Linked DNA regions of Homo sapiens: region 2 is linked to region 1. Evidence: fine-mapped expression QTL. A gene starts in region 1. The other region holds a variant in brackets. All regions are shown on one strand. Distances are from middle to middle.

Region 1 (5,389 bases):
TAAGTTTTCTTACTGGAAAAGACTGTAAAAGTGTCCCCTTCACTCCCATCTCTTTCCTTCTTCATTAGATAGCCACTCAGTATCAAATGCTAAAAGTTACTAGAAAAGTGAATTGGCATTTGAAAAGTAAATATATGTCAAAGTAGAAAACAAAGGCCCTATGTGTGTGAACTCTCCAACCACTTATCTAGCTAGTCCCCTTTTAATAAATGTTCTAAAGAAAACATACAAAGTTTTGAGTCTTACCAAAAACTCTTCAAAAGAGAGTGAATAAGTTGATGACAGATAGGTGTCCACAAAGCACATCAGAAAAGTATTTAGTGTACAATTACCAATTTTAAATAGTTTTCAGTCAGGGTAGGCTTCCCTTGACTGTCTAACAAATTAAGTAATTTTAAATATTCTTTAAGTTTGAGAGATCTCTTAAAAATAAGGTTTGACCTTTTTAAAATAAATGTTAAAGATTCTTGTAGAATATATTTGGTAGCTGTAAACGCTTGGTACCAGATCTCATTGCCAACTCATGTCTTTCATTATATCAACACGTTTTATAAATATACACAATTTGTGCTCACTGGTACGTCAGACCATAAAATAAACGGGTATATATGCAACTACTGTACCTCTGCAGATTGGGAAATTATACTCTTTGGGCTATGTACACTTAATGTTTAAGAATAACAACAAATAATGCAGTCTCTGTACTGCCAAAATAAGAAAGAAAATTGAGGATACTGGCTTTTCAATGTATCTTTCAGGGAAAAATAACTGTCCTTATTTAAGCATGACTGTTGACCCCTATCAGTCCAGTTTTTGAACCAAGCGGGGGCCTTTTTCTAACTCTGAGAACACGTTGAATGAGCATCTTACTCCAGCCCACCCAAGTAACAAATTCTTTCTGTTAGGAATTGTGCTTGTGATTTTCCGAAGTTAATTTAACCCTGGATTTACCTGAGTCCATGAAATTACAAATCACACCATGTTAGATGGAATAGCATAATAATCAACAACACCGGCACTGGAGTCAGACTAAGGTGGTTCAGACCCTGCCTCCTATAGCTGCCACCTGTACATCCTTGGGCAAATCCCTTAATGTGCCTACCCCTCAGTCTCTTCATCTGAAATGAAGTTAACTGTAATACCTACCTTCTAGTTACGAGAACTGTGTGCTGCTCAAAGTGCTAGATGTATTATCCTCCTCATCATCGTCATTGGGAACTTAAAGAATTTTAATCTAAGAAAATACATTTTGGCCGATTGTAAAAGAAAACTAATTTATTAATATTGGTGTTGTAGCAGCTTCTGTGGTGACTCCAGAATTCATGTTGGAACTCATTCAATTCAGGTAGATAGAGTAATTACAGTTCACATTTATCTTGAAGCCTGACTGAGCTAAGCCCTTCGCATGGATTATTTCATTTTACCTCACAATGACCTTGAGGTGAGGTTTATTATTATTCCCACTTTACAGTTAAGGAAACTGAGGTTTGGAGAGTTTAAATAATAGCTAAGCCTAAGCTTACCTAGTGAGAATTGGACCTGTGTTAGGAACATAGGCAACCTAAATTCAGAGCTTCCAGAGCCAATCTACTTACAGCAGCTTTCTTAAATTAAAAAAAAAAAGAAAGAAAGAAAGAAACGATACATAAATTAAAAATTATTGGCCGGGCATGGTAGCTCATGCCTGTAACCCTAGCACTTTGGGAGGCAGAGGCAGGTGGATTGCTTGAGCTCAGAAGTTTGAGACCAGCCTGGGCAACATAGTGAAACCCCATCTCAATTTAAAATAATAATAATAATAATAAATTCTTGGGACACTATCAACTAATAGCTAGAGAAACTAATAGCTTAGAAAATTTATTTCCAAGGGACTTTTGTTAAGATACTATATTGTAGTCTGAGAATCAATGATTTTCAAAATAACACATTGCCCTATTACAGCAAAACTACACTTCAAATGTTCAAATTTCACACATTGTTAGAAATTTAAAATAAACTAAGCCAATTGGAAGACCTCAAAAAATATTTACAGAAAGAAAGACATTAACATTGTTTACCTGTTACTTGAATTGAAGGGAATAAGTTGAGAGCCAAGAGCAGCCTGAGCATCTTTGTCCTGACGATGGGCTAGGGTTCCAGCCCCTCCTCCCCGAGGAACCCGAAGTGTGAGGGGAACTGAAAGACGCACCTGCCAAGGCCTGAGAGTCTCCGTCATCCACGGCCACCACCACCGCCACCATCCCCTTAGGGCACATGATCAAGGCACTCAAACCACAAGGCATCCTGACTGCAGCATTTCACACAGGATATAACGTTGTTTTGATGACTTTAGACTTTTACTTCTATTTTTAAAGACTTTTTTTTTGTCACTGAAAAATAGTCGGTCACTACATGATGGGCTTATGGGAATTATTCTTTATTGATGGATATCAAGAGTTGTGTAAAAGGGGTGCTTGAAATCCAGCAGAGATTAAAGGGGAGACAAAGTGTTCTTAAGAAGGAACAGGCCGGGTGCAGTGGCTCACGCCTGTAATGCCAGCAATTTGGGAGGCCAAAGTGGGTGGATCATTTGAGGCCAGGAGGTCAAGACGAGCCTGGCCAACATGGTGAAACCCCGTCTCCATTGAAAATACAAAAAATTAGCCAGGCATCATGGTGGGTACCTGTAATCCCAGCTACTAGGGAGGCTAAGGCAGGAGAATCGCTTGAACCCAGGAGGTGGAGGCTGCTATGAGCCGAGATCATGCCACTGCACTCCAGCCAGGGCAACAGAATGAGAAAAGAAAGACAGAAAGAAAGAGAGAAAGAAAAGAAAAGAAAAGAAAAGAAAAGAAGGAAAGAAGGAAGGAAGGGGAGAGAGAAAAAAGAAAGGAAGAAAGAAAGAGAGAGAAAGAGAAAGAAAGAAAGAAAGAAAAGAAAGAAAGAAAGAGAAAGAAAGAAAGAAAGAAAGAAAGAAAGAAAGAAAGAAAGAAAGAAAGAAAGAAAGATGGAAAGAAAGAAAGAGGGAGGGAGGGAAGGAAGGAAGGGGGAGAGAGAGAAAGAAAGAATAAAGTCTCTAGCAGAGGAGAGATTTTCATAGGATGGGGACAGGTTGTGTCAAAAAGATAATGGTAAGAATTCTACTGAGGAATTGGGAAACATCTGCATAAACGTTTAAAGGAGTTACAAATATTAGAAATGTAACATTTGTGTAGGACATAAGGTAGCCCTCTGGAGCATTTAGCACACAGTGCTTGATTTATGTCAAGCCTCCTCCAACTCACTTCTAGGAACTTTGCAAAACCCATTCTACGTGCAAGCAGCCAGCCAGCTGAGTATCTGGGGGAGGTTCCCTAAGCAAAGGGAAAGTCAAAACAACATTCTATGTTCTTAGTGGGACAGTAAGGCAACCAAAAGCCCCTTGGTGTCTCATGCTCTCTATGTCCCTCAAGGTTAAGTAATAGGGCACAAAAGGAGGCTCCGTGGCAGGATTTCTGAGATTCATAACCACCACCCGACTGCACCCTTCTTCAACTCCCAGGCCCTTTGCAGAGAGGGTTATTCCACCAGCACGGCCAACTGCTCTCTTCTTCCGGCACCTACGTCAGTATCTTGTACTCAATGACTTCTTCAAAACTTTTCCAGTAATTTTTTTCTTCTTTTTGATAATCTAAGCTTTGTGCAATTACTCTAGTTGGGGGTTTTGTGTATGTGGGTTGTTTTAAAAGATAACTTGTATTGCTTTTTATTCTGACTATAAAAGTAAGGCATATTTCATTGAGAATGTTTAGAAAAATTATAAGCATTAAAACAAGATTCATCCACATTCTTACCACCCTAATATAAACACTGCTAATATTCTGGTCCACTGCCTTCCACCTGTTGGTCTGTTAAGATTTTTACATGTTTAATATCATGTTTTACTTATAGTTTTCATCAGATATGTACTATTATTTGTTATATCTTGAACATTTTCCCATGTCATTTAAGTATCTTTATAAACATTATTTGTAATTGATGCATAATATTCCATTCTCTAATTATATCATAAATTGTTTAACAAACCCCTAGTGTTGTTACCTTTTTTTCTTCGCTATTTTAAAATGCTACAGTCAAACTCTTTGATGACCTAGCTGTAAGAGGAGGCAGGCTTCATGTCCCTCCCTCCTGATCTGATAAATGACAGATCAAAAGTATTTCCTGTCCTGGTAGACCTTCTTTGTTCACACTTCAATTTTCCCACAAACACAGTCTTTGTGAACCCCTCTTACTAACACATCTTTTGGTCCTTTGGAGAAATTTGTCCTTGGAAATGATTCACTCACACTTCTGAACTATAGGTAAGTGACAAAGCTATGCCCTGAGTCCTGGAGAAGATTCACTTCTAGAATTTGACACAGTCTTCCTGGCTCTGATCCTCTATCCAGTTAGGGGAACCCATGCCTTCCCCAGGGCCTGAAGTCTATCTGGGGGAAAATTTACAGATGGCAAGGTGACCTTTCCTAAAAGGTCATCCATATTCTAGAGCCACCAGCCTACCCAGATCTTAAAACAAGAGGCTCTGAGACTCATTATACATACTGAGAATATACACAGAAGAAACAAAGATACCCAGTAGTTTTCCATGATCAACAACAAAAGGCTAAGGAGTGAGTTAATAACTGTCTTCAAGCATATTAAAGATGACTACATAGCATCTAGTTAATACTATGTAAATAGTAGTAATCGGGTCAAACTTAGCTGAAAAAGAAACAGTTCACTCATCTGGCCTAATTCCCTTATCTTGCAGAGAAGGAAGCTGCAGCCCAGAGAGGTCAGCTCATTTATACGAATTCACAAAACAATAATTAAATATTATTGGCCTTATTATTTGATGAGCCATATTTAATTTTCTTTCCATAGAATAAAAAGAAACACAAACTTTGACATTTGCCTTCCTATGTTTTAACATGTATGACACTAAAGAAGCAAACCATTTCATTAGAATCCTTTCACATTTGCTTTTGAAATCCAATAGCATTCACATATACCAAGAGGTAGAAATGACAGAAATAAAATAAGGACCTTAAATCCGGCAATACACAGGATACTGAGACCCTACAACATTTTCAGTAAAAATAATAGCATTTCCATACTAAGAACTTTACATTCCAGATCTCATTTAATACACAACCTGTGAGGAAGATTATTATTATCTCCATTTTACAGATGAGAAAACTGGTCTGAAGTGGGGTTAAGAATTGTCAGAACAAAAGAATGTCATTTTTCACAGAATTTGAAAAAGCAATCCTAAAAATCGTGTGGAATCCAAAAAGAGCTGAATAGTCAAAGCAATCCTAAGCAAAAAGAACAAAGCTTTGAAGTATCACATTACCTAACTTCAAATTACATGGTAAAACTATAGTAACCA
Region 2 (5,389 bases), 27 kb before region 1:
CAGAATTCATAAAAGACAATGTCTATGTATTTCTAAACTAAAGGAAAACAGCATTAAATAGGAACTACGTGGCTCATTTCATGAGTGGGAGACAGTGTTTTAATGGTTTTTAAATATGTCTTCCTATCCCTCCCCCTACTCTAACTTACCCCGTTTAACCCACTAACCAAAAGATTAAACACCCATTTAACCAAAAGGAATGATTTCCTAGCCTTTCTTCTGCAACTAAAATGTCTGTGGATACCACACTTTGCTTGACTGAGATGTGCAGGTGAGTGAGAAAGGGAAGAGGCTCCCAGAATCCACTCCCTTTTTGTTTTCTACCCTAACTTCTCAGTCAAGTCACTAAGTACATGGTAAGTTGGAATGTGGGCCATGGCACTGTAAGACTTGGCCTGTCACAGGAAATCTCTTTTACTTCATTTCAGAGTCTCAAAATGATCTTGATATTTGGTCTAGTCACTCGAGAAAAATTGGCATTGGTGGCCCAACAGGGGCCTGAGGTGGCCGGCTGGAGATGGCGGTCATTTCCTATCCAGAGCAGTGATATTGAGCAGATGGGGGCTGCCAGCCGGCTGGCTTCTGGATAGGCGTCCGTGTCAGGAGCGATAGGCTGCGAAGTCGCGTGGTGGGGCATAGGGCTGGTAATGCTTGCGGGTGGGCCCGGGGCGGCGGGGAGTCATGTTCATGTAGTCACTGTGCAGGAGCCTGCTCCTCTTACTCCTCACCTGCAGGAAAGAGAAGTGTCAGTATGGAGGGACAATGTCATGGAAGGAGTTCTAAGACTGTGGGCACAACTATTCATAATATTAACTGTCAAATGACAGAGACACTAAAACACTAACCTTTTTTGAGCACCTTGGACTTGGGTAATGACTAATCACACCCAACTACTGACTCTTCACATTGAACTTGAAAAATCTCAAAGAAAGTATTTTAGAGAAATGCATCCCTGTTACTCTCAATGCTGTCATCTGACCTGAATTAAAAATGCACACTAATTAACATATCCACTGTTGATATGTAAATACACTTGAAGGCCCTTCCTCCTTTGACTAGGTTAAGCCTACCCACATTGTGATCTTCTTACATTAGCATTTGCTTAACAAGCTGTTTTTCCATAATTAACCGAAGAGGACTTTCAACTCCTCCAGAGTCTGTAATAATCACAAATTTGTAAAGGTGGAGTCCAAACTAATGGCAATTTACAGTTCTAGACAACTAGTACATTCCTATGTCTTTATGGGTATGTATTTCTACACTCATCTCTCTTTCATAGGCTTGGCTCCATCAGGATGAATTTCCACCAGAAGTGAGGGAAGTAAGGGCAATAGTTTCACCCACCATGAATCTTAGCAAAATTTTTGACTAAGGGTTAGGAACATCATTTCTGAATCAATGTGATAGTAAAATTCTACATTTCTTAACAAATGACCCAGAAAACATCTAAAAACAGAAAGCCATCAGATTTCTGGATTCAGAATTCTCTATTATGAAAAAAGTGCCTAGTTCCTGGCACACAGGCTGATACCTAAGTAGATAATGCTGTACATGAATGACATGATACCTGAATGAATAAATAAGTGAATGATTTCAGCCCTGGTTTTGTTTCCATACACTCCTGCCTGAGCACTTCACACCTTCCTTGTCAAAGGGGCATGAGTAAGTGCTAAAGAAAGGTTTGAAAAACGCTGACTTCCATGTTACTAAACACAGCTAACATGTTTTAAGTCCTCATCTTCTTCAACTCTCAGCAGTATTCTATACTATTGATAACTCTCTTCTTTTTGTGATACTATTTCTCTTTGCCATCTATGACATCCCAGTTTTTATCCTACCTGTCTTGTCACTCCTTCCCTGCCTCCTTTGCAAGCTCATCCTTCTCTAACCAGCCGTTAGAATTTCTCACTGCTTGGTCCTAGGCCTTCTTCTCTATCCTCTTTCCCTAGGCAATCTTATCCACATTCACAGCTTCAATTACCACCTACTCACCCAAATTTATATCTCTGGACTAAACCTCAAAGCCACTCTAAACTCAACATGTCTAAAATAAAACTCAAGATTTCCCCCAAATGCTGTTTTTTTTTTACCAGTGTTTCTCATCTGAGTGAATGACACTACCATATATACAGCTGCCCAAGACAGACCTCCTAACCTCATCCTTGACACCTCAAGCTCCCTTAATCCCTGTCCCAGGAGACATTTAGTGAAGTCTAAAAACATTTTGGATCATCACAACGGGGAGGGATGCTACTGGCATCTACTGGGTAGAGGTCAGAGATGCTGCTAAACATCCTACAATGCAATGAAGAATTGTTTTGGTTCTACATCCTTTCTGTAAATGAAAGACTAGAGCTGTCTTGAGCACAAGATCACAGCAGGGCAGGGGTGAGGCCGAGGAAATGTCTGTCCCCAGATGAGTGTAGAAAACAGCTGATAACCTGGGAAGCATTTTTAGTACTTACTCCAACCCTGAGGACTCCCTTTGCCAAACCTCCAAGTGTCAGCCTCTGCCTCCGGACACCCAAACCAAATCATAGCTGGTAGAGAGGCCACAGCAATAAAGGTGTCTTGATTCTCAGGTTCTTTACATTGCACATAAAATAATGAAAGGTCTGTTGCAGTCAGCTCCCATGCTTATCCTCAAGTGATTGTCAGATGGCAGACTTACTTATTATCACCCTAACTCTAAACACAGCAGTGGGATGAAAATGACAGATGCATGGCTGGGAACAAACACCACGCAGAACCTACAGCACCCATGTGCATTGAGTATGTGTGCATATGTGTGCAGGAAGTACCTACCCTATGTGTCTGTGTCATCTCCACCCCTTCAACAGTGAATGTCAGCTAATGATATGTAATTTCTGGACCATTCCTCCTTTGCCCTTCTCCCCATGCCAGCCTTACCCACTTGTTTCCTGGGAACAGCAGCAATACACAGGGCATATGCAAGGTAATCTACTTAAGTACGTGGTCTTCAAGAATCTACTGGATTATTATAAAAAGCAGACACTACCTGTACACACACTATCTACATTCCTCACATTATGATCTGCAGTGGGGAACATAATGTTTTTTAAAAAGATTTCTTTAGGAAAACGGGCAGCTTTACCAGCACAGCTGCATGAATGGAGAATTGAAAGACAGTGACAGGTGCTGGCCTGTGACAGCTTGACCAAAGGGAGCTCTTTATTTACTCAAATGTCAACATCAGGTCAAGAACTGAGATAGAATCTGCAGCTGCTCCCAGAAACCCGCTCAGCCTAGAAACCCACTCAACCCAGAACTGCCTACAGTAGCATATCAGGCCCTCAGGAAGTTCCGGAAAACAGCAACTTACATCAAGGCACGCTGCAGACCAGCCAAAAATAGGATCTCAGAAAATTACCCAGGAAACAGCTAAACTCCAGGGATCCATAATGGCCTAGATGCCCAACTCAGCAAGGTACTTGTTGCTTAAATACCAACAGCAGGAAAAGATGAGCCCAGAGTAAAAATACTA[T/C]GTTATTCTACGAAATATAGACAAACTTGTATTTATACTCTTTTGGTAAGAGAGTACAAAGACCCAGGTTTGAGATGCAGATAAGTGGTAGTTTTTATTGGGTAACCGAATTGACTACAAGAGGCCACAAATGACAGGACTGCCCAATTCACAGGGGGTCTGTAAGACAAAGTAAAACAAAAATAAAATTTTTTTAAAACAAAGCAAGATGAATCTCACTAGGAATTAGTAGTACTGCCAAGGAAAAACCCAGTGTGTCTATGATGTGTCTGAGTTGAAAGTGAACGGTTTAAATTCATTGAAAGTGAGAAGCTGCTTTTGTCCCTTTGGGTGACTCAAGTCACTCAACAAATTGATGTCTCATTATAGTAACTGACATTCTAATGAATATTTATAATAAGTTTTCAATAATGAGCAGTGTCCTCTGGCCATTGAAGGTTAAAGTAATTCCCAAAACTACTTTCTGCAGAGCTAGTAAATTACTTTGACCTAGGTCAGCATATCACAGGGGAATGCCTTTCCTGGAGGGGTATCCAAAGGGCCACTGCACCTGGCCTTTAAGTTAGAAAGTTGAGATTCCCAATAAGAGGATTGAAAAGCCATATGGTAGGCATAAAAGCCAATGGCCAGAGATTAAGAAGAAACAAGAACTAAGAATTCTAAAAACTCGAAAATTATCAGCAAACACCAGAGGATCAAAGTTAGAAGGTAAGTTGGATGAAGATACCAAGATCTGGAAAGGTGAAAGTAGTCAACTAACATCAGAGGCAGAATTCAGGCAACATTTTACAATACCAAAGCCCCACCTTCAGGGTTGGGCAACTTGCAGAAGGCAAGCCAGGCAAATTCTTAAGATGATACCTAGTATAAAGAATTTCCAGGAACAAGCAACCACTTTGTTTCCTACCCTGCGGCAAGTACAGAGTAAGCAACAGGCAGCCTGACAAATGTCCATCTGAGCCCTAGGGTCTTCTGAACTGCAAGGAGCATGTGGGGAACAACTGAAAGGTAAGCTTTGGCAATAGGCCAAGAAGAGTCTAAAAGAATCTAAGACTGGATAATAGGAAGGCATGGCTGTGGATCCAGGTCTGTACCCGCAGTCACCAAGCTGACAGTAAACAGAATGACTTCATATGATATGGCTTTCAGAAATCACTGACCCATCTATGAATTAGGTACATATACAGATTATGCCTTAAAGATGAGTATCATACTTCAGGCAGACTCATTTAAATCCTTAATTTGACCTCTCTGGAGGTTATCAATTCATCAATCCAATAAGCATTCATTAAGCACCAAATGTACTTAATATCAAATGGAGAATATCAAGAGAAATAGTCTTTTGGAGACTATCAAGAGAAATAGTCTTTTATGTTTGAGAATACATTTCTCATTGAAGAAATGACTCATCCATGCATGTAACTTCTAGAAAAAAATTCAAAGACAACATGGAGTCAATACATTCTGTACCATACTATGTACCTAAGAAGTTTCTGAGTAAGAACAAGGGTCACTCAGGGGTACGTTCTTAACTGTAGGTGCGTTCATCAAAATGTGTTCAAACCCAGGCCAAAAATTCAATGTTGAGGAAGGTAAAGAAAAATACACCACATTTATTACGTAAACATTTGCAAAAGTTAGTACTTCAATTCAGTGGTGAGAGCTCAGAAAATTCTAACTCCCATTATAGTTTCATAATGACAGCACCATACTTGGCCTCACACAATTCAACTGCTTCAGAGGAGAAAAAAAAATATGACTCAGATAAACAGATCTAGTTTCTTTGCTAGGTTTGAATACACAATTTCAGTAGCCAAGTTTCTCATGATTTTTGATCAAGCCAACATTGTCCATTGGCTTCAGTTGCCTAGCTTCCCAAGTTGC

What was found. PIP is the estimated chance that this variant, and not a neighbour inherited with it, causes the effect. A credible set is the group of variants that fine-mapping cannot tell apart.
Region 2: its variant is the best candidate, but not a certain one, in a credible set for the expression of CD28 in blood mononuclear cells (TOPMed, PIP 0.76).

The regions. Positions count from the first base shown.
Region 1 is chr2:203,703,417-203,708,805 of GRCh38, reverse strand. CD28 (CD28 molecule) reads right to left here and starts at 2,167. Exons shown (of 4, transcript NM_006139.4): 1 at 2,058-2,167. The coding sequence starts at 2,109. RefSeq lists an enhancer at 2,138-2,287.
Region 2 is chr2:203,730,123-203,735,511 of GRCh38, reverse strand. CD28 (CD28 molecule) reads right to left here. Exons shown (of 4, transcript NM_006139.4): 4 at 1-728. The coding sequence ends at 600. Among named protein-coding and RNA genes, the nearest start is that of CD28, 26 kb to the right of the region's middle. The variant T/C (reference allele first, on the strand shown) is at 3,506.